Linked DNA regions of Homo sapiens. The protein of the gene in region 1 purifies or fractionates together with the protein of each later gene. This does not show direct contact. Each region holds a gene or a part of one and is shown in the gene's direction. Other genes may lie near its edges.

Region 1 (3,971 bases):
CAAGCAGGTCTGTCACCCCCATCTCTCAGATGAAGAAACTGAGCCTTGCAGGGGTGGAGTCCCTTGTCCCCACGTCATAAGGGTAGTCATAGTAGTAGGAAGAGGAAGCACCTAGGTTTGAGGCCAGGGCTGGCTGCTGTCAGAACCTAGGCCCTCCCCTGCCTTGCTCCACACCTGGTCAGGGGAGAGAGGGGAGGAAAGCCAAGGGAAGGGACCTAACTGAAAACAAACAAGCTGGGAGAAGCAGGAATCTGCGCTCGGGTTCCGCAGATGCAGAGGTTGAGGTGGCTGCGGGACTGGAAGTCATCGGGCAGAGGTCTCACAGCAGCCAGTAAGTGAACAGCTGGACTCGGGCTGCCTGGGCGGCAGGGAGAAGCGGGCAGGGGAAGGGTCAGCAGAGGAGCGAGGCCCCAGAGGAGCCCTGGGGTGGAGCACAGCCAAGGGCTCTGTTCCCTTTCCTGGACTCGGCTTCCACAGGCCCTGACCTGCCTCCCCCACCCTCCGGTCCTGCCCCTGTGCCTGGCAGCAGCCCCACCTGTGTGACATCCCAGCACACCCCCCCTCTCCTTGCAAAGGAGAAGGGAGCGGCCTAGGGGAGGCCAGGGGCCCACCTGGGCTGGGGCTGTGGAGAGGGAGTGGCTGGGACGGGAGGAAAAAGAGAGACGGAGATTAGATGGAAGAAGAGGGATTTCAAGACAAATTGCCAGAGATGCAGTCAGAGAGACTGACTGAGAGACACAAAGATAGAAGGAATTAGAGAAAGGGCCACACAGAGCCAGACAGAGAGAGAAGAGTGGAGATGGAGACAGGGACGAGGACAGAGAAAGGCAGACAGACACATAGGGACAGAAAGAGAAAAATCACACAAAGTCAGAATTACTGAATGACAGGGAATGACACATAGAACGAGACACAGATTCAGAGACTCAGGGCAGGGAAAGGAAGGCTGCAGACAGACAGACAGACAGAGGGAGGCTGAGACACAGGGAGAAGAGGGGCTTGGAGAGGTGGCACAGGCAGGCAGCCAGTGCCTCAGAGGCCTCCGGGGAGGGCCCTCACACACACCCCGCCCCGGGGCATTAAGGCAGGGCTTGGAGGCCAGTCATCCTGGGCCCGCCCAGGGCCGCCCCCCTGCCAGCCCGCCTGCCTGGTGCCTGGCACCTGGCGCTCCAACCCAGCCTACCTGCTGTAGCTGCCGCCACTGCCGTCTCCGCCGCCACTGGGCCCCCAGAGCCCCAGCCCCAGAGCCTGTGAGTCCAGGAGGAAAGGGAAGCTGCCCCTCCCCGTCCAGGTGTCAGCCCTCCCCAAGGACACCTGTCCCACTCGGGCACCCATTTCTCCCTCTGCTCTGTCCTTCTCTGCTTGGGTGGGGGTTCCTGGCCTCTCTCTACACCTCTCACCTCCGATGGCTGTCCGCAGCCTCAGTTACCTCTAATCTCCATGGCTTCAGCTGCTGAGCTGGCCCTCTGCTCCCACCCCCGCTGGCCAGGGCAGCGGAGGGCACTGGCCCTCCCCTCGACCAGCCCCGCCCAGCTTTGCTTGGCTGTCCTTCAAAAGGGCAGGGGTTTGGCGGACAGGGCTTCAGCAAGCCGGGTGATGGGGGTCCCAGACATTGTCTGGGGCTGAGCCCCCTACTCCCCTCCAGCAGACCTCAAAGGCTCCATATCGCTCTGCTGCGAAGACAATGAAAAAGGGGTGGCTACGGAACGGTGTCTGGTTCCCCTTGTCCTTCCACCCCAAGCTGCTGGGGCCTGGCCAGCTCTCAAGGCAAGAAGGAAAACATCCTCTGACATGTGCCGGGGAGGTCCCATGGCTGACTTGAACAGGGCCGAACCATGGCTTGACAGCTCAAAGCCCCTCCCAACGACTTCCACATGGTTCTTGGTATCTCGGAAGCTTCTAGCTGTGACCAGGCCCTCTCCAAGGCCACCCTAGACACCTAAGATATATTTTAAGTGTTTGGAGATCTGAGTGCTGTGAGAAACAGGGGATTTCCCCAACCTTGTTTCTCCCAAGTGGGGAGCGGGAGCAGGTGAGGGAGAGAGGAGAGGGCATGAGCCAGCCCCCCCCTCCCGATTTCCCCGTAAAGTGATGCGGCCCCATGTCCCTCCTTGTTCCCAGAGGAACCTGGGGCCCGCTCCTCCCCCCTCCAGGCCATGAGGATTCTGCAGTTAATCCTGCTTGCTCTGGCAACAGGTACGCAGGGGATGGGGGCAGGGCAGGATCCTCCCTCTTGAATCTCTGGGATCCCCTAACCCTCTGTGTCTGGACAGTGACAGGGCTGATTCCAAATTACAGAACAACCCATAAGGCACCTGAACTGGAGCAGTGGTCATGAGGGCCTGGATGCCCTTCTAGATAATCCCTTTAAATGCCAAAGGAGGAGAGGTCAAGGGGGTCGTAAAGGGTCCCGTGGAGGGGCTGAGGAAGCTGGAGTTGGGGGAGCAGTCACTCAAAGCGCCCAGGACAGGGGCTACTGACCAACCAGTATGGAAGTATTTCCTTTTTTTTTTTTCCCAGAGACAAAGTCTTGCTCTATTGTCCAGGCTGGAGTGCCGTGGTGCCAACACGGCTCACTGCAGTCTTGACTTCCCGGGCTTAAGTGATCCTTAAGCCATCTCAGCTTCCCCGGTAGCTGGGACCACAGGCACCTGCCACCAAGCCAGGCTAATTGTTTAATTGTTTGTAGAGATGGGGGAGGAGGTCTCACTATGTTTGCCTAGGCTGATCTAGAACTCCTGGGCTCAAGTAATCCTCCCACCTTAGCCTCTCAAAGTGCTGGGATTACAGGCATGAGCCACTGCATTTGACCTTATGGAAGTATTTTCATCCTTTAATACCCGACCCCAGCATCCAGGGCAACCCAGAGGGACACCAGACCAGGGCCCAGACCACCCACTCTCTTTCTCTCCTCCCCACCCCCATTTCTGGGAGTCCTCCTGGTCTACCACCTCTCCTTCCTGAGCCCCTTCTTTTGCTCTCACCCCCTCCAGGGCTTGTAGGGGGAGAGACCAGGATCATCAAGGGGTTCGAGTGCAAGCCTCACTCCCAGCCCTGGCAGGCAGCCCTGTTCGAGAAGACGCGGCTACTCTGTGGGGCGACGCTCATCGCCCCCAGATGGCTCCTGACAGCAGCCCACTGCCTCAAGCCGTGGGTGCGGGGGCTGGGGCGGTGCCGGGGTGGGGGGCTGGGAATGGGGAGATGGATGGAGAGAAGCTCAGGGATAGGGGTGCTGGTAAGGGGATTAGAGATGGGGATGGGTAGTGTCAGCAAGGTTGATGGGCTCGAGTTGGTATTGAAGGTGGGGGGATGAATGGGGTTGGGATGGGGCTATGGCTGGGAAGGGGGCTTCGGTGGGAGACGTGGAAGAGGTTGGAAGCAGAGCGATGTTTCTTCATCCTCAAAGGTGTCACTCACCTCTCCCACCCATGTCTCCCCCGACCTTTCCTCCTCCAACTACTGTCTCTCCCACCTCAGCCGCTACATAGTTCACCTGGGGCAGCACAACCTCCAGAAGGAGGAGGGCTGTGAGCAGACCCGGACAGCCACTGAGTCCTTCCCCCACCCCGGCTTCAACAACAGCCTCCCCAACAAAGACCACCGCAATGACATCATGCTGGTGAAGATGGCATCGCCAGTCTCCATCACCTGGGCTGTGCGACCCCTCACCCTCTCCTCACGCTGTGTCACTGCTGGCACCAGCTGCCTCATTTCCGGCTGGGGCAGCACGTCCAGCCCCCAGTGTAGGAGCACCAGAGGGGAACCTGGCAGGGGGTGGTGAGGAGGGAGTGGTCAGGATTGTGGAAGGGTTCAGGGCATCAGAGATGCGGTTCACAGTGACGATGTGGGATAAGTTGAGAGGATGTGTGGAAAACGTCAGGATAGGGGGGTGGGGACAAAAGTTGGGGCCTTGGAGTCAGACGGACGGGATATGCAATCATACATCCATAACCTCCTGGTTGTAAGACCTT
Region 2 (3,940 bases), on another chromosome or scaffold:
AAAAACAAAAGACTCCAGCACTCGGTTTCTAATCTGTCAGAGTTGTGCTGCAAGACCTTGCTGTCCGAGGAATGTTTTCCTTTTGGTATCGGACTCGAGGTCTCTTAGAAGATAAATGCGGCTCCCACTACTCAGGAGGGCCCACGGCGCTGATCTGGCGAACGGATCGTCCCCACTGGTGTGAATTCTGTCCCGCGCAACTTACACTTTTCTGAACACTGAGAGCGCCACTTCCACAAAGAACTTAAAAGCATGTGAGATTCTGGCGTCCGTCTTACTTTCATGACTGCGCGCGTGTGATTTATTTAGAGACAGGGTCTCGCTCTTGCCCGGGCTGCGGTGCAGTTGCAACCGCGACCTCCAGGATAGCGGGGCCCACAGGCGCCACCGCGCCCGCCTACAACGCGGTGCTCAACAAAGTTAACTTTAAAAGCTCCCCCAACTCCACGACTCAGGCCCTCCGAGATCACGGAGCTTCCACATCGAAGCAGGAGCACGCGGGAAACGACCCTGTTTAGAAAATGCCCGCGCCGCGGCCTCTGGCCCGGCCCAGCCACGCCGGCCGGTGATGGTCGCACCGGAGGCGCGCGACGCAGCGAGGCCGCCCCGGGAAGGGACGCGGCGGGGCCCCAAGCGAGGCCCTGGAGCGGCTCCGCACCCTGGCCCGCCACTCACCGGCCGCCGCCTCCATCCCGCCGCCTCCAGGAGCTCGCGGCTGCAGTCCGCTTACGCCCGCGGGCCGTCAGCCTCCCAGCTAGAGCGAAGGGCCTTCCAACCAATGGGCAGTGCGTGCCCGCCCGTGGCTCTTCTTGACAGGCCTAATCCTGCTGTCCCAGCCAATCAGCTTGCCGGAGGAGCTCTCGATCCGGTCCCGCAGGTTCCGGCGCAGACGATGACACGGACCTACTTTCCGGTCAACGCGGCCTGCGGTACCACCTCCCACCCGGGTCCAATGTGCGCGCGAGCTTTGTCTCCAACCGCTTGGGAACTGACCAATAGGAACGTTGGATTAGGACTGACAGTTCCTGAAACCTCTCGGCAATAGCTTTGTCACCCGACTCCCGCCCCCTCTCCCGAAGCTCCGAGACAGGTGTGCCCGCCCCTCGCCGCCGGAGCCAATGGGCGCAGGGGGCGGGGATTGTTTACGTCTCGCTCCGGGGCGGAAAGTGGGTCAGGGCCGGGCCGGCGGAGCGCGCAGCGGGGGCTGCAGGTGAGTGGCGGGGCACGGGCCGACGTCTCGGGCTCTGGGCGGGCGCGCTGACCTTGCGGGCGCGGCGGTAGCAGCGCGGCCAGGGCGCCGCCTTTGTTCCTCTCCGGAGGGCCGCGCCCGAGAGAGGCTTCCCCGGTGCCGCCGACTCCGGAACCCGCGCGCCCGCGGGAGGGAACAGCCAGGCCGGGCTGCCGCCGGGGAGGGCGGCTCCCGCTGCACACGCGCTCGCCTGGGGCTGGGCAGGGTTCGGCGGTCCGGGCGCCGCGATCCGCCCCGGCCTCCCTGGAACCCCACCCGGGGCCCAGCGGGCGTTGCCAGCCGCGAGCCCGGCGCAGGGGTCGGCCCTGGAAGGCTAGGCGGGAACCCCGGAGCTGGCGAGGGAGGTGCCAGGCAGGTGGCCTGGGAAGCGCAGACCTGGCCCTCGCAGCCTTTTGCATTTTATACCATAACAGCGGCCAGCGCTGAGCAGGTTTTAAGATTTGTGTTTCACGAGGAGCCCTGGCGGTAGCGAGCGGAGGGGAAGGCGAGCTGCGCGGCCCAGGAGACGGTGGCGGGAGGAGGATGCAGGCGGGTGCGGCGGTCGGGCCGGGCGTGAGGGGAAGGTGTCGGGGAGCGGTCACGGTGCTTCTGGCATGAGGAACTGGGAGGCCGGAGATGCCATTTGTCAAACCGGACGACAGAGGAGGAGCGAGTGGAGGTTTTAGATGCCTGCGGGACAGGCGGGCGGGGCAGCCAGGTTCGTGAGGTGGAACCGGAGAGAGGGGCTGGGATTCGCATTCCGGAGTCATGGGTGTCTGGGTGGCGTTTCACAGGATCTACCTGGGTTTTATTGAGCTGCTCAGATCCTGGAGTGAGGTACGGGCTCCTGAAGCGTTCTGGAGCCCTGGCTGGGCACCGGTGCGGCCCCTGCAGTCCCCACTTTGAGTGGGTCCGTGGCCCAGCCTGGAAGCTCAGGGCTGGGAGTGCTGTGAGTCTTCCTTTGCCCAGAGCCTGTGTTTTCTTCTAGATTCTTTCCACCATGGCCAGACGCCCCCGGAACAGCAGGGCCTGGCACTTCGTCCTGAGTGCAGCCCGCCGAGACGCAGATGCCCGGGCCGTGGCTCTAGCAGGCTCCACTAACTGGGGCTACGACTCTGATGGGCAGGTAGGTTCCAGCGGGCGAGGCGGACGTGGCTGGCCTAAGGTGTGGAGATGCCCTAGGCAGGCAGGCAGACATTACCTGAACACGGAATCAGTCGGAGAAAAAGATGCTTCTGAGGCTAGAGGACCAGTCCAAACCTGGGCCTGTCTCCTGGATGCACCGCATTCAGTAAGACTCTTTAATTTGGCAAAGGACACACACAGCCTCAGGGGTGACAGGACCTCAGAACACACTGCATTCTTCACTGTGCTTTCTCCTCTGAAACACATGGTGCATGGAGAGGTTGGCAGTTGCTTTTGGTTCATTCAACAGAAATTCTCCACTACGGGGCTGGGCACTGTGGCTCACACCTATAATCCTAGCACTTTGGGAGGCTGAAGCTGGAGGACCACTTGAGCCCAGGAGTTTGAGACCTGCCTGGGCAACATGGTGAAACACTGTCTCTACAAAAATTTAAAAAATGTGTCAGGCGTGGTGGCACGTGCCTGTAGTCCCAACGACTCAGGAGGCTGAGCTGGGAGGATTGCTTGAGCCAGGGAGGTCAAGGCTGCAGTGAGCCGTGATCACACCAGTGCGTTCCAGCCTGGGTGACAGAGCTAGACCCTGACTCAAAAAAAACAAAAACAAAAAAATTCTTTGGTTTACCCAGCCCATTTCTGGAGGTGACCATTGTTAACTTGCTGGTTGTCTTACCAGACGCTTCTTCTGCCAGTACAAACGCATACTCTTTGTTCACATATATGTGTGTTAAAAAACAAACAAACAGAAAAACCCTGATCCTTGAAGGTAAAAATTTCTGCACTTGCTCAGGGAGGCCAGGAACCTGAAGGTATTCAGAACAGCTCAGGTGTTTGTCTGTCTGCAGCCCAGGTGATCTGACATGCTTGTGGGCTTTGCAGGCAGAGCTACCTGCCCCCATGGCCCCTGACCCCCACCTTGGCAGACCCTGAGGGCAGCTGCCTGGCCTGACGGGCGCAGTGAGGCTGGGAGGGGTGGGGGTCCCTGTGGGGGGTGATTTCCCAGTCGGTTTCCTGAGATCTCCCTCGGACCAGAGCAGGAGTGTGGCTGCGCCTCCCTGCCCCACTTCCAGCTACCACAGGTCATGTGCCCTGGAGCAGTCTCTCCTGGCCTCGCAGGGTCATGGCTGTGGGACGCGGGCGTGTCCACAGGCCAGGCCAGTGTCTGACACACGCATGCTGCTTGTCCTCTGTCACCATGGGCCGTGTCCTTCCGGGGCGGCTGCTTGTGTGACCTGGTGCTGCTCTCTGCTGTCACAGCTCCCCTGCGCTGCTGTTCCGGCTCAGCCAGGTGTCCTGGGAGGGGTGGGCTCCTCTCCTCTGAGTGAGGACTCCCTAAGCCCGGTGGGTCCATTAGGCCTTGGGGGCAAATTGGGAAACAGGGTCCTTACCCACCGGGTGGGGGCCGTCCTGAGGTCTCCTGGAGCTCCCTGCTCCAGCCAGGGAGAGGCCCCCACCTGCCTTCCCGCCCGCCTCCAGCTCCTGCAGGTCACATGCCTGAGCCTCACAGGCTCGTGGCTGTGGGATGCAGGCGTGCCTGCGGGCTCGGCAGTGTTCGACACATGTGCTGCT
Region 3 (3,500 bases), on another chromosome or scaffold:
TCCAGACTCAGAGGGCTGGATTTTGGTTCCCTTGTAAAGACAGAGTGAATTTCAGTATAAAGATCACCCGTTGTATTCACCCCACACCCAGGGCTAGTATAAACATGACCCTGGGCTTCTGTACCACACTAGAATTCATGTGAGAAAGCTAAAATGGTGGTCTTCTCCACCAGCCCCTCACAGGCTTGGGGGTTTTCAATGTGAAACACATGCCAGTTTTTAAAATGCTGCTTTGTCCAGGTGAGAACATCCATAATTTGGGGCCCTGAGTTTTACCCAGACTCAAGGAGTTGGTAAAGGGTTAATAGCCAGATAGTAGAACCAGTGAGGAGATGCGGCCAAAGATTCTTTATATCTGAACCAAGATGTAAAACAAGAAATGCTTTGAGGCTTTCTAAGCGATCCTCCTGTCTAATTTGCACCTTTGTCTGGATGCACACTTCTGACCTTGCTGCCACAACCTGTGGGGTCTGATGTGTCCCTTGATGGGTGCTGCCCTCAGGGACTGCACCCTGACAAGTGTTAAGGCAACATTCCTTTCTTGTGCCCTGGGCCAAAACCAATGCTGATGACCTTATCAGCTTCCTGTTTCTTCCCATACTTGCATACACCACTGCAAAATGTCTTAATGCAAATTTTGTATTTCTTACAGGCCTACAGAAATTGAAAATGACCAAAATCAGGAACCACAGATTTGTGCCCATTCCTAATATTTTGTTCTGCAAATTAATGTATAATTTGAGGTGAAATTCAGTTATAAAGTCAAGGACGAATTTGCACAGTGATATATTTCTATGTGTATGCAAGTACAAGTATATAATATGTCACCTGGCACATTCATTTTCTCAGTTGAAGAAGAGAAAATTTGAAAATGTCCTTATGCTTTTAGAGTTGCAACTTAAGTATATTTGGTAGGGTGAGTGTTTCCACTCAAAATATGTCAACTTAAAAAAAAATAGGCCCTTTCATAAAAACCAAACTGTAGCAAGATGCAAATGCATGGCAAATCCTGTCGGTCTCCAGTTGGTTATCTGAATAGTGTCACCAATTCCACCAAGACAGTGCTGAGATTGGAAAAGGGCACTCATTTGGATTGCCTTACTTCTCTTGCCTTAAATATATCCCATATATTTAATATGTCAAAAAGGGCTTGAGGTGAATTTCATTAAATGGAATAATATGATGCCACTTTGCAGCTAAAATAAGCTCAGTGATACCTCCTTGTTAAAAAAAAAAAAAAAAAAAAAGAATGCCAGGGGGGAATTATCATGCTAAATTATTTTACTGCTGAAGATAGCTTCATTGCAAATTATTCTTTTTCCAGAATTTCCCCCAAACAACTTAGAATTCCATAAGTAGAACAAGATAGATTCTACCCCCAAAATATTCATAAGCAAATCCCACTGCCCTTAAAATAAGGAAGTTATGCCTGGTTGTCTGTGAATGGAACCTCAGTAGGTAATCCTGATGAAGCTTAAAACCTTAGGGCAGTGTCTACATGGGAAACAAGTATGTGGAAATTGACAATCATTTTTACCAAATCGTTGAGTAATAATATGACTTACCTGATAGATATACACATTCAATAAGGAACATTTTTTTTTTTCAATAAGGAACATTTTAACTAAAACATTACTTTAGGGCTGAGATTTCCAGGCTATCTACATTGATCTACTGAAAAATTTCTAGATTTCCATATACAAACGAAGAAGACATGAGTTTAGAGAATTTTTTTCCTTTAATTTTTTTTTAACAGAAGGGTATCAGAGTGGAGGACCTAGATTACGCTACCTGTGTTTGAAAATATTGCGCTTTGCCTAACCTTCGGTGGAATGTATTGTTTCAGCATATTCTATGTATAAAAAAGTTTAAAGATGTCTTCAAAGAAGACTAGAGTCTTTAAGTCACTTATAGCTATATTTTACTACAAAATTTGTGTATAAAGATATATTTAAGTGTTTTAGATAAATTTAAGTTACTCCATATGAAATGTTTAATTTCAGCTACTGTGAATTCTTTCGATCAGTCCTTTGCTTTTTTAAAAAATCTTTTCCATCGTGTTAAAAAGAAAATTAGCTATTAGGAGATATTAAAAGATTGATGTCTTAGAAGGACAGGGTTAAAACCTTCTGTAATATATTTAAATATATATTTTTAAGAGAGATGCTACATTGCCAATGATTTTATAAATAATTTAAAATTAATTTACAAATTTATAGATGCAAACCAAAAGATCTTTTTAAAAGAGAGAGAGAGGAAAAAAATCACCTTTTATTTGTTTGGGTCTCATTGTCAGAATTATTATTCAGATCAAGAAATCTGTGTCGATAAAACCTAATCTCATATTGGAGAGTGAATGTCGTTAAGTATTTCTGAAATGTTTCTAAAAAATGAACATGAAAAAAATAAGGTATTTTCTCCCTAGCTTCTCATTACAGTATTTCTAATTGCTTCACACTTTACAGTTTTAATACAAAGTACAAGCTCTACTTTTATAACGTGTACTACAAGTTTCTTTAAAAGTATTGTTGTATTTCAGCTGAACTCTTGTATCTGCAGTCTTTTGTTATTTCTGCAGGCTACACCCTTAATTTGCAGAGGCCATTTTGTTGTTTGTTTGATGCTGAAGCTGTTGTTAAAATGCCCCAAACTCCAAGGCAGATTGTCTGTATAATACGCTATAGCTTTTCACCATGTGGTGTTTACCAGCTGTTACTCTGTATTTTAAAAAGCCAGAGATTTCTTCTGTCTAAACTGTTTCTATAGCATTTTCTAAACAAAAAAAATGGTTTTTTTCTTTGCCTTGTAATAAGATTGTAAATCCATTTCCTGCTTGTGTTCTTAGTGGGCATGATTGTGAGTGTGTGTGGGGTGCTCACACGCGTGCCAGTCTTTTTGTACTGTAACTACCTCATGGTTTGAATGATGATTGTACTGCTGGTTGTGTTAACAGAGCACATTTTGTTGGGTGAGTCCTATGTGATTTTTTTCATGTTTGTTTTATCTGGGGGTTGTTCATGAAACTGACAGATGTTTTTCTAAAAAGGACTATTATCAGTTTCCAAATACAATACTTCTCTCTTCTGGTTTTTCCTGAATGAGCCTGATTTTGTTGCTGGTTTTCATCATCTATGAGGGTAAAACGAGTACCCTTAAAATCCCTGTGGCCAGTTTGAACACCCCTGTTGTATTCTTTTCTCTGTTCAGTGTGTCAGCTATTTTGTGAAGATGCTTAGATGTATAGTTTTGATAACCACAGTTTTAAATCTTTTATCTGTGCATAATAAAAAGATATATATCAGTTATTAATATGTGTCTTGTTATCATTAAATTCTACCCTAAGGCTCATGTAACTTTTTTCACTGTGACTTTCTCCTGAATGGATCGTCTGCTCCGTGTTGATGAGGAAGTGGGAGGAGAAAGGCTAAGAGGTCCAGAGCAGAGGGAAGGGCGGATGGACTAGAAGAAGAGTGCAGCAGGAGCTGTCGCTCTTCTCAGAA
Region 4 (3,360 bases), on another chromosome or scaffold:
TTTAAAATACAAGGTAGTAGTTTGTGTAAATACTAAATCCATTGGTACCTGTGCAGAATGTAGGAAATGGAGTTGCTAATTCCAAAAAAACAGCACATATGCTGAGGAAAGTATAATACCTAATATATATGGTTTAAGCAATGTAAAATTCCATGAATATGTTCCTTTTCATCTTAAAATTTGTGATTTAAAAAACATTGATATTACTATAAAGAATTATTGTTATTTCCCTTGATTTACAGAGTATTGTTACAATCACATTTGAAGTACCAGGAAATGCAAAGGAAGAACATCTTAATATGTTTATTCAGGTGAATGCAATTTTTAACTGATTAATGATTTATCAATGGTTTTGTTACATAGTTGTTGCTATTAGCGATGGTTGGTCTTATTAAAATATGTCACTTGATACAGAATCTCCTGTGGGAAAAGAATGTGAGAAACAAGGACAATCACTGCATGGAGGTCATAAGGCTGAAGGTACAGTTTACTGTTGCAGACTTTCGGACAAAGTCCTTTTCTTGGCTGTTATAAAAACTATATTTGGTTTTAAACAGAAACACTTGTTTTAGTACAAATCATCTTTGTCTACTTTCATTTTTCTTTATTATTTTCGTGACTGAAAAGGAGCTTTGGAAATCACTGCATAAGGCTTGATTTATTTGCACAACTTTCTTTAGGGTTGCAGCTAGAACAAACCTGTGTGCTTTGAAATGTTACCTTCTGCTCTCTGTTCCCAAGTACAGAGAAATAATGTTGCAAATCTCACTTCTGCTGAACATTATGCTTCCTGATGCATTTAGCAGACACTAAACATTTGTCATACTCTAAACAAAGTTACAAAGGACTAGAAGAATTCTTGTTCTGTATTTAGAAACCCACTCACGTTACTTGATATTTGGGTATTTAAGTCATGAAAGGTATTTCTTCTAGGAAGCAGTGATTCTAAAGTGTATGCTTAACCAGTCAGTTGAGTGTCTACTCTTGTGTGTTCACAAGTGTGCACAAAGTTTTTGGTAAATTAAGAATATTATTTCAAATAAATTAATTTCATCCCCATAGGAGCCAGTTTATCAGATAATTCGTTTCTCATTTCTGCAAATCAATACACAATGAGCTCATATTCAGATAAATATAATAGTTTTTCTTTATTTCATCATTGTTCATTGATTGCAACCCATTTCTAAAACAAATTATTTAATATAACCAAACTCCTTTAACTTCTCAACTTTTCCCACGAAAACTGTGAAACATTATATAAAATCTTTAATCAATAGGATATGATACATATTTCATCATTTTGTTTCAGGTTTTGGTTGTGATAAATAACACTGAAAAACCATCCTAATATATGTATTAACTTTATCATTAGAAAAGGGGATTGTTCAAAAAGAAAATCAATACACAGAAACCTTTTTTGAAAATTAAAAACATTAAGAAACTTCTTGTAATTCACAAATAATTGGAATTAAGTAATTTTCTCAGCTTAAGAGTTTGTATTTTTTAAGTGAATATCAGTAATTAATCCATTAACATTGATGCTCTATTTCTGCTTTTAAGTTTGAACTGAGGCTGATTAATGTTCAGTCAATTCTCCTTTGAGCAGGGATTGGTGTCAATCAAAGACAAATCACAACAAGTGATTGTCCAGGGTGTCCATGAGCTCTATGATCTGGAGGAGACTCCAGTGAGCTGGAAGGATGACACTGAGAGAACAAATCGATTGGTCCTCCTTGGTAAGTCTCAAAGGATTCACAGTTTTAAAACAAAGTGAAAAATATATTTGAAAGGGATATCATGTGCCACTTAAACAGATTAACCATTCAGGTCCTCTTTTAAAACTAAATAAGCTTGTGGTCAATGTTTCATCTTTATCACGTTACAACGTTCGTAAAAGCTTGTTAGGACTTTTGTTCTTCTTCAGTTTTAGAAAAGTGGTTAATCCAAGGACCAATGTGACTTTGATGTACTGACCTGGAAAGTTAAAGATGGAATCACTCAATTACTATTCTTTTTGTAAATTTCTAAACACCATAAAGCATTTAATGAACTGGAATTGATAGGTGAACTGTGTCATTTTAATAAGCATAATGTAATCACGTCATATTTTGTTTTGTTTGCAGGCAGAAATTTAGATAAGGATATCCTTAAACAGCTGTTTATAGCTACTGTGACAGAAACAGAAAAGCAGTGGACAACACGTTTCCAAGAAGATCAAGTTTGTACATAACACTAGAGGCATTTCTTATCAAAAGGATTGGATAATAAAAATAAGTTTCTACTGGGTATATTTCAAGCATTTATTTATTACTTTAGTTACGAATTCCAATATACTTTAAAATGGTATTTGTTTTACAGCATACATAAAATGTAGCAAATCAGTACTGTAAAACATTTAACATTCATACAGTTATATATAATATCCTTTTTTTTAAAGAATGGTATTTCACAAAAATATCTTTTGAAATTGGCTTTGGAGTTTACATATACTGAACATGAAAGTTTATAATAATGATGATACAACTTTCAACATTGTCATTTTTTCTTAGAACTTCAGCTGATTGCAGAGATATAATGATTACATTGTTATTAAATTTTTTTAACACAAGTAAGTGTCACCATTTTATGACATGAAATAAAAGGTTATGACTGTTATTGATGTTGATGTTGACGACCTGATCACCTGGCTGAAGGAGTGTTTGTCAGGTTTCTCCATTGTAAAGTTACTCTTTTCCCCCATTTCATACTGTGCTCTTTGGAAGGAAATCACTATGCACAGCCCACACTAAAGGAATGGGGAGTTGTAGTGTACTTTCTTGGGAGTGGTCTACATGATTAATTGAAATTCTTCTGCAAAGGACAGTTGTCCCTTTCGCTTTATTAGTTCGATCATTTATGTTTATCAGTGTGGACACATGAATATTTTATACTTTGGGTTACAATTTAATACTGCTTTATTTTGTTGCTCAAATTATCCCAGCTTTGACCATTGGGAACTCTTTCCGTTATCTCCTGTTCCCACCTTTGACATACCCCCATCAATGTGGGTTTTGTGTTTTGTTTTTGAGTGCCTCCTTACTTTTCTCCTGTATTTTTAAATAACCCCAATCCCTATTGAAGCTGGCGCTAGGAAAACTAACAATACTCCCTTTCCCAGGTCATCCGATTCCTATGCTGATGGAGGAAATTTGCCTCACATGCTGGGGGCGCTGGGATTTTGTGGTTGAATAAGACACCTGGCCTGGCCCTCCTGGAGCTTAGTTTAGTAGGTCACACAAGCAGTCATTGGTAAATTTGGGATTCAAACAAATCTGTTAGGCTCAAACCTGTCTGTTATTTGTCCTCCAAGCTTCATATAAA
Region 5 (3,500 bases), on another chromosome or scaffold:
ATTACAGGCACGTGCCACCACACCCAGCTATTTTTGTATTTTTAGTAGAGACGGGGTTTCACTGTGTTGGCCAGGATGGTCTCGATCTCCTGACCTTGTGATCCACCCATCTCGGCCTCTCAGAGTGCTGGGATTACAGGCATGAGCCACTGTGCCCGGCCAGGACGCTGACTCTTACTGGAATATGAATTGCTTGGTCCAGGTTAATAAATGTTTATTGACCCAATCCTTGGCTTTAGATCGGCTTATATAAAGATGAGTAAGATGGATGGACTCTTACCTCAGTCTATATTTAGTAAAGGTTAAACTTAATTGGAAGCTCCATAGTTCTATTTCTTTCCTCCATTCAAATATAGATTAGCTACACTATTTATATCTTTACCTTTCTGATTCAGTTTACTCATTTGTAAGATAATCAGCTTTGACTAGTTAATATCTAGTTTCCCTTTTACCAGTGTATGTAATTCATCTAATATTTTTTCTTGTTGGTTTTTGAAACTTAGAAATGTGTTACTTTTATTATAGTGGTAAATATAAATAATTGGGTTTTTTTTCTTTTTCATCAAAAAATACTGGGTTTTGCTTCTGTAAGGTATAATTTAAGTCACTTCTCCAAGGACCCCTCTCTTAGATGGATTTCCCAGACAGATATTGCTACCTTTGATTTTAAAAATTCTTAAAATGCTATTAAACCTATACACTCCATCCTAATATATATGAATTATTCTTCCTCAGAGTGAAGATACACAACAGCAAATCATCAGGGAGACTTTCCATTTGGTATCTAAGAGAGATGAAAATGTTTGTAATTTCCTAGAAGGAGGATTGTAAGTAAAGCATTTCATAGACATTTCTAAGTTTTGACTATGTGATTAAAATATATACTGTTTAATCAGTTTATGGTAAAAGTTTTCTACTTTTGATTAATTGGATTAGGTGAATTAATTGCCACCTATGTTAGCTATAAATCTAACTTAAAGAATTATTTTTAAAAGATATGCAATCTTTTTTCCTCTTAAAAATTTTGGAAGGGAATTTTATATAAAGGTAATATATTAAATCGTAAAAATTCCAACATTACAGGGAAGTATAAAATGTAAAATAAGAATCTCTCAACCTTAGTCCTTCTACCCAATTTCTTGTGTATCCTTCTAGAAAATAGTTTGTATTGACTAACATATAAAGTATGTTATATGTGTTGACTAACCTACAACCTTAAAATTTTTATTTATGAGATCACACTTTGTATGCTCATTTGCATGTTGCTGGTTCTCAGTATTTTCAAAAGCTTTGCATAGAAACACATCTAGGACAAGCTTATTCTTTTTAATGACTACAGAGTATTCCTTTTTGTGAATGTTCATAAAAATTAGATTACATTCTTTATTTTACTGTTACAAGACTGAAGTCTGTTTTTCAAATATACCTAATTCAGCTAATCAATTTTTCTATTTTTAAAATGAATAAGAATATTGCCAAATATTACAAACAAATACTTTTAAACTAATAACTTCCATGAAAATGGTTTGTTCTCAAACATAAATCAGTCAGAGAAACTTAGAATTTTCTGTATTTTACTGTGTATGATGGATGAGAAATACTCTGGATAACAGGGAATCCATGGTCATAAGGTACTTTTTATCATGTGGAACACTTAACTTGGGTTTCCTGAAAGATTATATCATGCTGTCCTTAAATGTCCAATACATACTTACAAATTTTGCTGTTAACTCAAGGCTTCTAATTTAATAATTGAGACAAGTGTACCTGCTTCTGTTTTTGAATTTTACTTGTACTTATTTAATTTTAGTTGTCTTTGACATTACTATCACTTCCTCTCATCCTAGCCTCTTGATTTCTTATCTCCTAGGAAACTTACCACCCAGCACAGTGCACTGCATGTAAGAACTTGATTAATCTTACTAGGGTGCTATTTGAATTAGAAATTGTGGCTGGAAATTGTGATTGTTCTTTTTTAACCTTACAAAAAATAGAAAGCAAATATTGCAGCAGAGATGAGGCCTCACATCTAGTTTAATCCTAGTTTTGTCACTAACTAGCTGATTTCCTTGGACAGGTTACTTAAATTCTCAGGCCTCAGTTTTCTCCTCTATAAAATGAGTTATTTGGACTAACAGGATTTCTCAGTCCTGTGGTTTTATATGATGTATTACATTCTGTACAGGAATTTTTGTCAGTATTATACTATAGCTTAAAGATAAGATTATATTTTTAAAGGCAAAATATGTACTTGCCGCATTAATATTTTGCTTGCTTTTAATAGCATTACTGGCCTTTTTGAAACTTATATTCTTCAGAAGTTTGCTGTCCTTTTAAAGTAAAGCAAAAGTTTTAAGATAATCACTAAATCGCTGATTCAGAATGGAGTAAAGCCTCCTATTTGTGTTCTTTTTGCCTCTTTCAGGGAACAATTGCAGTCATAGTCTGTAAATATACTCTCAGAATCTTTAAATTGCATGTAGATATTTTTAAATTAAACATCTTCTCTAGAAGAGTATCTAGCATAGTAGGAAATTTTTATTCTTGTCAAAGATCATTTCTCCTTTTGCTATTAGAAGACATAGAAGTAGTATATACCTTGGGAAGTTGTTTCTACAGAACTTATAAGTTTAGTATTATTTTTACTGTGTAAGAAATAGATGCTGGCCAGGCGCAGTGGCTCACGCCTGTAATCCTAGCATTTTGGGAGGCCTAGGCGTGCAGATCTCCTGAGCTCAGGAGTTCGAGACCAGCCTGGGCAACATGGTGAAACCCCATCTCTACTAAAAGTACAAAAATCAGCCAGGTGTGGTGGTGTGCGCCTGTAATTGCAGCTACTTTGGTGGCTGAGGCAGGAGAATTGCTTGAAGCCAGGAGGCAGAGGCTGCAGTGAGCTGAGATAGCACCATTGCACTCCAGCCTGGGTGACAGAGTGAAACTCTGTCTCAAAAAGAAAGAGAGAGAGAGAGACAGAGAAAGAGAGGATGAAGGGAGGGAGGGAGGGAAGGAAGGAAGGAAGGGAGGGAGGGAGGGAGGGAGGGAGGGAGGGAGAGATGCCATTTTCCCATATTCTGTTGGGATGGATGTTAGTTTAATTTTGGTTACATATAGCCTTGATTGTAAATTATGTAAGTGTTTAGGGGTCTTTTAAGAAGGTGAATTCATTATTGTAAACTTAACTATGAAATAGCTAAACTATATTTAGAAAAATATGTTTGGAATGATTCCTAAATTATTATTTCTAAAATACTAAAATTCCAGTCATTATAAATAAAAGTATTTCATGAAAGAGTTTAGTATCTTAGCTCAGTTTTCTTGCATTTATGTCAAAACAATGTAATTTTGGAAGAGATCTTGACGGTAAATCTATCCAAAACTTAAGAAGTGTCATTCTTCTTTTTTTTCTGGTTGATAATCAGTCTTAAGCTGTGTAACTTACTGTGACGTATGGAGTTAAATCTAGTAAGCACTTACAAATGCCCCATGATCTAATTTCCGCC
Region 6 (3,500 bases), on another chromosome or scaffold:
GCCGTGGAAGCTGAAAAGTTCAAGATCGAGTGGCCACATTGGGTAAGGGCCTTCTTGCTGGAGGGACTCTGCAGAGTGCCGAGAGTATCACATGGAGGGGGAGCTGAGTGTGCAAGCTCAGTTCTCTTTTTCTCTGCTTATAAAGCAACCAGTCCTACCCCCATGATAACCCATTAATCCATTAACCCATTAATTTATGAATGGATTAATTCATTCATAAGGGCAGAGCCTCCGTGACCCAATCACCTCTTAAAGGCCTTGTCTCACTCTACTGCCACATTAGGGGTTAAATTTTAACATGAGTTTTGGAGGGGACACATACTCAAACAATAATAGGAGTGTTTGAAAGAAGAAAGGTCAGATACACAAAACTAATAAAAGTGGTTACATCTAGCAGGGAGAGTGGGGAGCAAGGTTTTTCACCTTTTTCAAATGTATATATATAATTATTTTAAAGCACATGAAAGTTGTTCTTGCGTTTTTGTTTTTGTTTTTGGTGGGGGGTGGGGGCGGTGCAGGGAGAGGGCTTTGAGCCAGGATCTCTGTCACCCAGGCTAGATTGTTAGATTGCAGTGGCACGATCACAGCTCTCTGCAACCTTGACCTCCTAGGCTCAAGCAATCCTCCCACCTCAGCCCCCTGAGTACCTGGGACCACAGATACCATGAGGTGCATGCCACCACACAGGAGTAATTTTTTAATTTTTTTGGTAGGGATGGGGTCTTGTTATGTTGCCCAGGCTGGTCTTGAACTCTGGCACTCAAGTGATCCTCTCACCTTGGCATCCCAATGTGCTGGGATTACAAGCATGAACCGCTGTGCCTGGCCTATTTCTGTATTCTCTATTCTTTTCCATTGGCTTCTAACTATCCTTTTACCAATATCACACTGTCATGATTACTGTAGATTTATAGTAATTGTTGACATCAGTTAGTGCAAGTCCTTCAACTTTGTTCTTTATCCCAATTGTTTTCGCTACTCTAAGTTTTTGCATTTCTATAAATATTTGAATTGCTTTTTTTATAAAGCTTGCTTGAATTTGATTGATCTTCATTAAGGCTATACATCACTTTGAGGGATTTATTAGTGTGTTTTCACACTGCTATAAAGGTACTACCTGAGACTGGGTAATTTATAAAGGAGAGAGGTTTAATTGACTCACAGTTCTGTATGGCTGAGAAGGCCTCAGGAAACTTACAATCATGGTGGTAGGGGAAACAGGAACCTTCTTCACAAGGCAGCAGAAGAGAAAATAGTGTGAAGGAGGAATTGTCAAACACATAACCATCAGATCTCGTGAGAACTCACTCACTATCATGAGAACAGCATGGGGGAAACGGCCCCCATGATCCAATCACCTCCCTCCCTCAACATGTGGGGATTACAGGACCCTCCCTGGACACATCGGGATTACAGTTTAGGTGGGGACACAGAGCCAAACCGTTTCAGGGGAAATTGACATAGTAACAATATCAAGTCTTCCAAACAATCAACAAAACATGCTAATCATTTATTTAGGCTCTGTATAATTTATTTTCTTTCTTTATTTCGTTTTAGATTTTGCTTATATTTTGTTAAATTTGTCTCTAAATATTTTATATTTTCAGATGTTACTGAATCTGAAATTTTAAAAAATTATTCCAAGTATGTAATAGTCCAATTTTTATTCCAAGTATATGGTGGAAAGTATTAGTTTTGATCTTTTATCCTGTGACCTTGCTAAATTCACTTTGTTCTAGTAGTTCTGAGCATTTAAAATTTTTCTTTTATTTTGGCCTGTGTTATTTAGGACTGTGTGCATTAACTTCTAACTACCTAGAAAATTTTTTATTTTTTTTTTGTACTAAAGGTTGACATAATTTCTGGCTTATCAGAGATTGTCATTTATAATGCCCATTCTTAGCAATTTTTTGAGACTTGTTTCTTAGCTTATTCATAAGTGTGGCTCATGAAAAAGTTCAGTATCCCTACAGTGGTGTTGCTTTAGAGTAGAAAGAATAGAGGATATAAATGTCAGAGCAAGTGTTCACCCAGACTTTTCCAAGTCCAAATTCGGTAGTTCTTCTACTTTAGTGTACACAACAGTCCAGTGAGAGTATTTTCACCCCAGTTATACAAGTGCAAATGCCCCAGGTATTTAGGGACAGTAAAGTAGGGAGTTTCAGATAGTTTCATAGATACTACGTGAGTTTCGTAGATACTTTAAGTACTAAGAATCAATAGGGATGAGTGTTCTGTTAATTCTAGTAATGGGGAACATTTGAAAATACTAGGACAAGCTAAACTTCTGGGACTGTTTTTTCATCTTGTGTGTATATGTGACTCTGGAATTCCTCAGTGACCACTGAAAATCCTCTCACTGGACTGTTTTGTATAGTAGAAGAACTATTGAATTTGGACTTGGAAAAGCGAGGTTGAACTCCTGCTTTGACATTTATATGCTGCCGACTTGCTATTTGGGGCCCTTGGAGCACTCAGTTTCTCATTTGCTAAAAGCAAGGATAAAAATAACAGTCCCTTACAGATGGCTGTTAGCATTATGTTTGTTAACCTATTTTTAAACTATAAATCACTATACAAAAGTAGTTGTTATTACATACATCCAAAACTCTACCCTTGTGCTAGTTGGAATTTTTTTTTACAACTAGAAAGGAAATTATTGCACTCATTTACTCCATGTGACTAATAACTGAATGAGGAAAAAGAGAATCAGGCATGTGAAGTGACAATGCCAAGGTCTCACTCTTAGCCAAATCTCCCAACTCTAGTCTGGTATTCCTTCATTATCTTAATTCTTGACCTTACTCTTAGTCCTCCAATTTTTATTTTTTTTTATTTTTTTTTGAGACGGGGTCTCGCTCTGTCGCCCAGGCTGGAGTACAGCGTTGCGATCTCGGCTTATTGCAAGCTCCGCCTCCCGGGTTCACGCCATTCTCCTTCTTCAACCTCCCGAGTAGCTGGGACTACTGGCGCCCACCACCACGCCCGGCTAATTTTTCATAGACACGGAGTTTCACTGTGTTGGCCAGGATGGTCTTGATCTCCTGACCTCGTGATCCGCCCGCTTCGGCCTCCCAAAGTGCTGGGATTACAGGCATGAGCCACCGCGCTCGGCCGGTCCGCCATCTTTTTGATGAAAATGTTTTGCTAAGATTGCATTGGTTATGAAAAACTGCAGGAACATTTAGAAGTAGATTAAGAGAAAATGAGAAATGGGATTTTTCTTTTTCTAATCTCTTTTTTTTTGGAGACACACTCTTGCTCTGTCACCCAGGCAGGAGTGCAGTGGCACTGTCTAGGCCCACTGCAACCTCCACCTCCCAGGCTCAAGCGATTCTTGTGCCTCAGCCTCCCAAGGAGCTGGGACTACAGGCCTGCACCACCACTCCCAGCTAACTTTCGTATTTTTGGTACAGACAGGGTTCCACAGTGTTGGCCAGTCTGGTCTGGAACTCCTGGCCTCAAACGATCCTCCTACCTCCCACCTCTGGTACAGTGGC
Region 7 (3,500 bases), on another chromosome or scaffold:
TCCTGGGGCCGTGGATGTGGAGTCTCCCTGAGGATCCCTTCGGCACTGAGTGACCTGCATCCCTCCCATGTCATTCACTGCGGGCCAGGGATGCCGTTTATTGCTGCCAAGGGCACTTAGAGCCGGGCTCCTTACAGAGGCAAACCTGAGCCCTGAAATGCCATTAGGGGGAACCCAGAAGACTTAGGGAAAGAAGCAGGTCCCTTAAGAGAAAACAGGAGTCTTAGTGTTTCTTTCCTTGTTGGGCTTTTACATCGAGGATGTCCACTGCCTGGAAGCTCTGTCTGTCCCTCAGGACTCAGGGACTTCTCATTTCCATTGCCTCCTTTGAATAGAGTAGTTCCTTGCGCTGAATATTATGGGATAATCTGAAATTTTAATTCTTGAATCAAATGAAATCTCTTTGCCCCGTAGGTGCAGAAGCCAGGGCCTTTCCACCTCACAGTACTGATTTCATTCCTAGACAGCTGGGTGAAGTAGCCTTCTGTGGCATCAACTGAATTCTCCCAGCTTCCTGTTTGGTCTTCCAGGGGTGAGGTTGTGGTTTGATGCTGAAAACTTAATGTGGGCATTTCTACAAAGGTGTAGCACCTTGATTCTAATAGTGGACTTCTAAAACCTACATCCTGTTTAGGTGGAAAGTATCTGAGACTTGAGCACAGCCATAGTCTCATCCAGGTATGACATGTGCCACTGTGTCTGAAATTCCTGAGCACCGAGGGCCGCTTCAGGCACCAGGCACTTTGCCAACCTGAGAGCTGTATGGGGCTGGACTGTCTAGTCTAACTAGGCAGTGAACCCTGTCCTGAACAGAGCTTGTTTGTTCATAAAGCACTCTAAAGCAGTGACTTTTAAATCTTGATCTGTGCATAATCTCACTCCTCCCAAAGAGTCATCAAGGGAGAGCAAACACCCAAGGGTAACGTTGGCTCACGTTCATTTTGTTGTTGTTGTTGAATTTTTGCTTCCTCCTATGACTAAGCAGAAAGAGAGAAAAGCAGTGTTTGGGGGCCTCTTCTCAGGCTGTGTTTAAACCCAGGTCACTTCCCTCAACAGGAAAATGGATTTTGACAGGCCATCTTGCTTAGAGATTTCCCTAATCACACCATAATTAATGCCAAATGGTTTCTTTGCTAACCTTAGTAGCACTTGAATAATTAACTTTTACTCTTTTCTTTTTTTAAAAGATACCTGCGAATCCACTGAAAAGTACATTAAACAAAACAGTATAGTTTTGGTTCCCCATATGTGGATTATCTGGTGAGCTTTTTATTCCCCCCCGCTTCCTTTCCTGTGTCTTGTCTTCCAAATGCAGGTTTTTCCTAGAACAAAACAACCGGATATTTCAGACTTTGTTGGAGGTGTCTGCCAGTCAAGACAAAACTCTGACAGCAGAGCATGCCCGGGGCATGGGCCTAGACCCCCAAGGAGACCGGAGCTTTCTCCTGGACCTGCTGGAGGCCTATGGCATTGATGTCATGCTGGTTATCGACAACCCCTGTTGCCCGTAGGAGGAGCCAACAGGACTGGGAGCCACTTCACGTGGGATGTCAGCAGCCCGGAGTTCACCCCAGGGCCCCAGAGGGCCTCATTTTTTATTAAGTTGACACAAAGGAATATTGTTTATACTTTCCAACAAACATAATTTTTGCAATTTCCTTTCTGCCCTTTTCCCTAGAGATAAGGTGAGATCACCTTGGTTTTGTGTCCTGCCATGTTAGGATATTGGAATCTGCCACTTTCTCCCAGAGCTGCTGGTCCTCTGGGCTTGGTCATGGGAGTTGTATCACTAGGAGTAGGCTGAGCTCTGGAAACATTGGGATGGACTGTTCAGAAAGTCTGTGTGGTCTTTGTCCCTTGATGTATTTGAGAATAAGACAACCACCTGTCCCCTGTGGCCTTAGATGTTCATCTGCCTAAAGGCAGAAACTAGACCAGATGATCTTTTAAGGTTTTTAGTAGTTCTAGGAGTCTATAGTCTTGGGATCAAATCCCTTTTCTTGTTCATTAGGGCAACTTTATGTCTTCTCTGTTTACTTGAGTAGGGACCACAAAGAGGGAAAAAAGGATGTTTCTGACACCAAATATGAGCTTATCTTATGGTCAGAATGAAAGAGGTTGCTTATCAGTGAGCTGAAAACTAAAATTATAGAATGAAGCCTGGAAACCTTCCTCAAAGTAACTTGATGGTGGCCATGCAATGTAATGTTCCTCTTTGTCTGAACCTTCCTCTTCTTGGGATGAATTGGTGAATTGCTAAGGGCCAATGCTGGCCTTGGAGCTTGCAAGCAAATTAATTTTCCAGTTTAGTCTCTTAAGGGTTCAATAATGCTCTTGGAGTAAGTTGGGTATTTTTAAAGGCTGAAGTTTGGACTACCGGAGGATAGAGCAATTGAAGTTCGAGCAGGATGGAGAAGCCACTCTAAGTCTCTTCATCTGGACACGAATTCTCTGGAGGCATTAGCAGCAGCACCTCTGGGTCAACACAGATTTACTGGATTCCAAAATCTAGCAAGGATCTGAGCTGGTTAACTCAGAGGGTGGAGCATGATGCTAACAAGACGGTTTATCATTTTGGACCCCTCACAAACACACTTCTCTTTAGCAGAGGTGACATTCCTTAGGCTAAATAATTGGATCCAGGGACATAACAGATTTGTTGAGAGAAAATGTGGCAGTGCCTTCACCCGGGACAGTGGTCAGGAAGCCCTGAGCATCCCTGATGGATTTATCCATCCTCTTCTGAAGTGCTCTGCTCTAGGCTGGGTCCTGTTGCCACCTGCCTGTTCTCTGGTTGGCTTTTGCAGGAGGGCAGCTTACGTGTTTGTCAACCAGTTAGAAAGCCAGTTCCTGTGGGTCGAGTTTAGGCCTTTTTGGCCATAGTTGAGAATTTTGACTTGGGATACTGGGTTGTTGGTGACAAATAATGTCTTCCTTTTCCCCCTTCCCGCCTGGCTCGGTTATGGGAATAGCCGTCAGTGCATCCATGTCTGTGACCAACACCCAGCCAGACTAATGTACACAGCAGGGAGAAATAACATTCAAATGGTGGTTCACACATCTCATCTCAAGATAAGATTCTTAGGGTTCACTGCTTTATTCAAAAGTGTTTTCACTGTAGCTCCTTCATATGGAATATCAAAACTGAAGAAATTCACATGTGGAAATGCAAATAGACATTGATTAATCAAGGTAGCATCTTTATGTAAATATATAAATAAGTTTGGGCATTGAAATGTAAACTGTACAGCTAATAGACTTTTCTCCTCTGCAATGTGGGTTGCTGTCATTTCAGTAATGTGTATGTTTACAAAAGAAAAAAAAATCTGTGTTTCGAGGTTGAAGCCTCACCTTTTATTCTCCTTTACATGCAACCCTCTCTTCTTGCCTCTCAAGGGTTGAGGGGTCCTTTCTGTCAAGTAATGGTTATTTTTCGTGGTATCCTGAGGTTCAGGGTGTTTTAAGCTGGGGGTAGGTGGTTAGAGGCAGGAGTAGAAGTG

What was found.
Region 2: the proteins of KLK11 (region 1) and SPSB3 purify together in Homo sapiens (affinity purification with mass spectrometry; 3 studies listed by BioGRID and IntAct, with this or other methods). This does not show direct contact.
Region 3: the proteins of KLK11 (region 1) and TGFBR3 purify together in Homo sapiens (affinity purification with mass spectrometry; 3 studies listed by BioGRID and IntAct, with this or other methods). This does not show direct contact.
Region 4: the proteins of KLK11 (region 1) and ZNG1A purify together in Homo sapiens (affinity purification with mass spectrometry; 3 studies listed by BioGRID and IntAct, with this or other methods). This does not show direct contact.
Region 5: the proteins of KLK11 (region 1) and AP3S1 purify together in Homo sapiens (affinity purification with mass spectrometry; 3 studies listed by BioGRID and IntAct, with this or other methods). This does not show direct contact.
Region 6: the proteins of KLK11 (region 1) and VMP1 purify together in Homo sapiens (affinity purification with mass spectrometry; 2 studies listed by BioGRID and IntAct, with this or other methods). This does not show direct contact.
Region 7: the proteins of KLK11 (region 1) and DENND11 purify together in Homo sapiens (affinity purification with mass spectrometry; 3 studies listed by BioGRID and IntAct, with this or other methods). This does not show direct contact.

What each region holds. Positions count from the first base shown.
Region 1 is NC_000019.10:51,023,817-51,027,787, reverse strand, and holds the start of KLK11 (kallikrein-11 isoform 1 precursor), read left to right. Parts: upstream 1-1,171; 5' UTR 1,172-1,250; exon of another isoform or gene 1,251-1,291; intron 1,292-1,645; exon of another isoform or gene 1,646-1,767; intron 1,768-2,089; exon of another isoform or gene 2,090-2,121; coding exon of another isoform or gene 2,122-2,156; coding exon 2,157-2,196; intron 2,197-2,993; coding exon 2,994-3,150; coding exon of another isoform or gene 3,151-3,154; intron 3,155-3,406; coding exon of another isoform or gene 3,407-3,477; coding exon 3,478-3,743; intron 3,744-3,971. UniProt on the Homo sapiens protein: Possible multifunctional protease. Efficiently cleaves 'bz-Phe-Arg-4-methylcoumaryl-7-amide', a kallikrein substrate, and weakly cleaves other substrates for kallikrein and trypsin. Cleaves synthetic peptides after arginine but not lysine residues.
Region 2 is NC_000016.10:1,779,772-1,783,711, reverse strand, and holds the start of SPSB3 (SPRY domain-containing SOCS box protein 3), read left to right. Parts: upstream 1-1,140; 5' UTR 1,141-1,210; exon of another isoform or gene 1,211-1,679; intron 1,680-1,889; exon of another isoform or gene 1,890-1,946; intron 1,947-1,980; exon of another isoform or gene 1,981-1,996; coding exon of another isoform or gene 1,997-2,065; exon of another isoform or gene 2,066-2,216; coding exon of another isoform or gene 2,217-2,228; coding exon 2,229-2,354; coding exon of another isoform or gene 2,355-2,519; exon of another isoform or gene 2,520-3,940. Other genes in the region: cytosolic Fe-S cluster assembly factor NUBP2, read right to left, coding at 676-691.
Region 3 is NC_000001.11:91,680,152-91,683,651, reverse strand, and holds the end of TGFBR3 (transforming growth factor beta receptor type 3 isoform a precursor), read left to right. Parts: 3' UTR 1-3,309; downstream 3,310-3,500. UniProt on the Homo sapiens protein: Cell surface receptor that regulates diverse cellular processes including cell proliferation, differentiation, migration, and apoptosis.
Region 4 is NC_000009.12:120,337-123,696, reverse strand, and holds the end of ZNG1A (zinc-regulated GTPase metalloprotein activator 1A), read left to right. Parts: intron 1-242; coding exon 243-311; intron 312-414; coding exon 415-480; intron 481-1,606; coding exon 1,607-1,736; intron 1,737-2,123; coding exon 2,124-2,230; 3' UTR 2,231-2,860; downstream 2,861-3,360. UniProt on the Homo sapiens protein: Zinc chaperone that directly transfers zinc cofactor to target metalloproteins, thereby activating them.
Region 5 is NC_000005.10:115,865,935-115,869,434, forward strand, and holds part of AP3S1 (AP-3 complex subunit sigma-1), read left to right. Parts: intron 1-735; coding exon 736-827; intron 828-3,500. UniProt on the Homo sapiens protein: Part of the AP-3 complex, an adaptor-related complex which is not clathrin-associated. The complex is associated with the Golgi region as well as more peripheral structures.
Region 6 is NC_000017.11:59,714,154-59,717,653, forward strand, and holds part of VMP1 (vacuole membrane protein 1), read left to right. Parts: intron 1-3,500. UniProt on the Homo sapiens protein: Phospholipid scramblase involved in lipid homeostasis and membrane dynamics processes. Has phospholipid scramblase activity toward cholesterol and phosphatidylserine, as well as phosphatidylethanolamine and phosphatidylcholine.
Region 7 is NC_000007.14:141,660,667-141,664,166, reverse strand, and holds part of DENND11 (DENN domain-containing protein 11), read left to right. Parts: intron 1-1,315; coding exon 1,316-1,511; 3' UTR 1,512-3,500.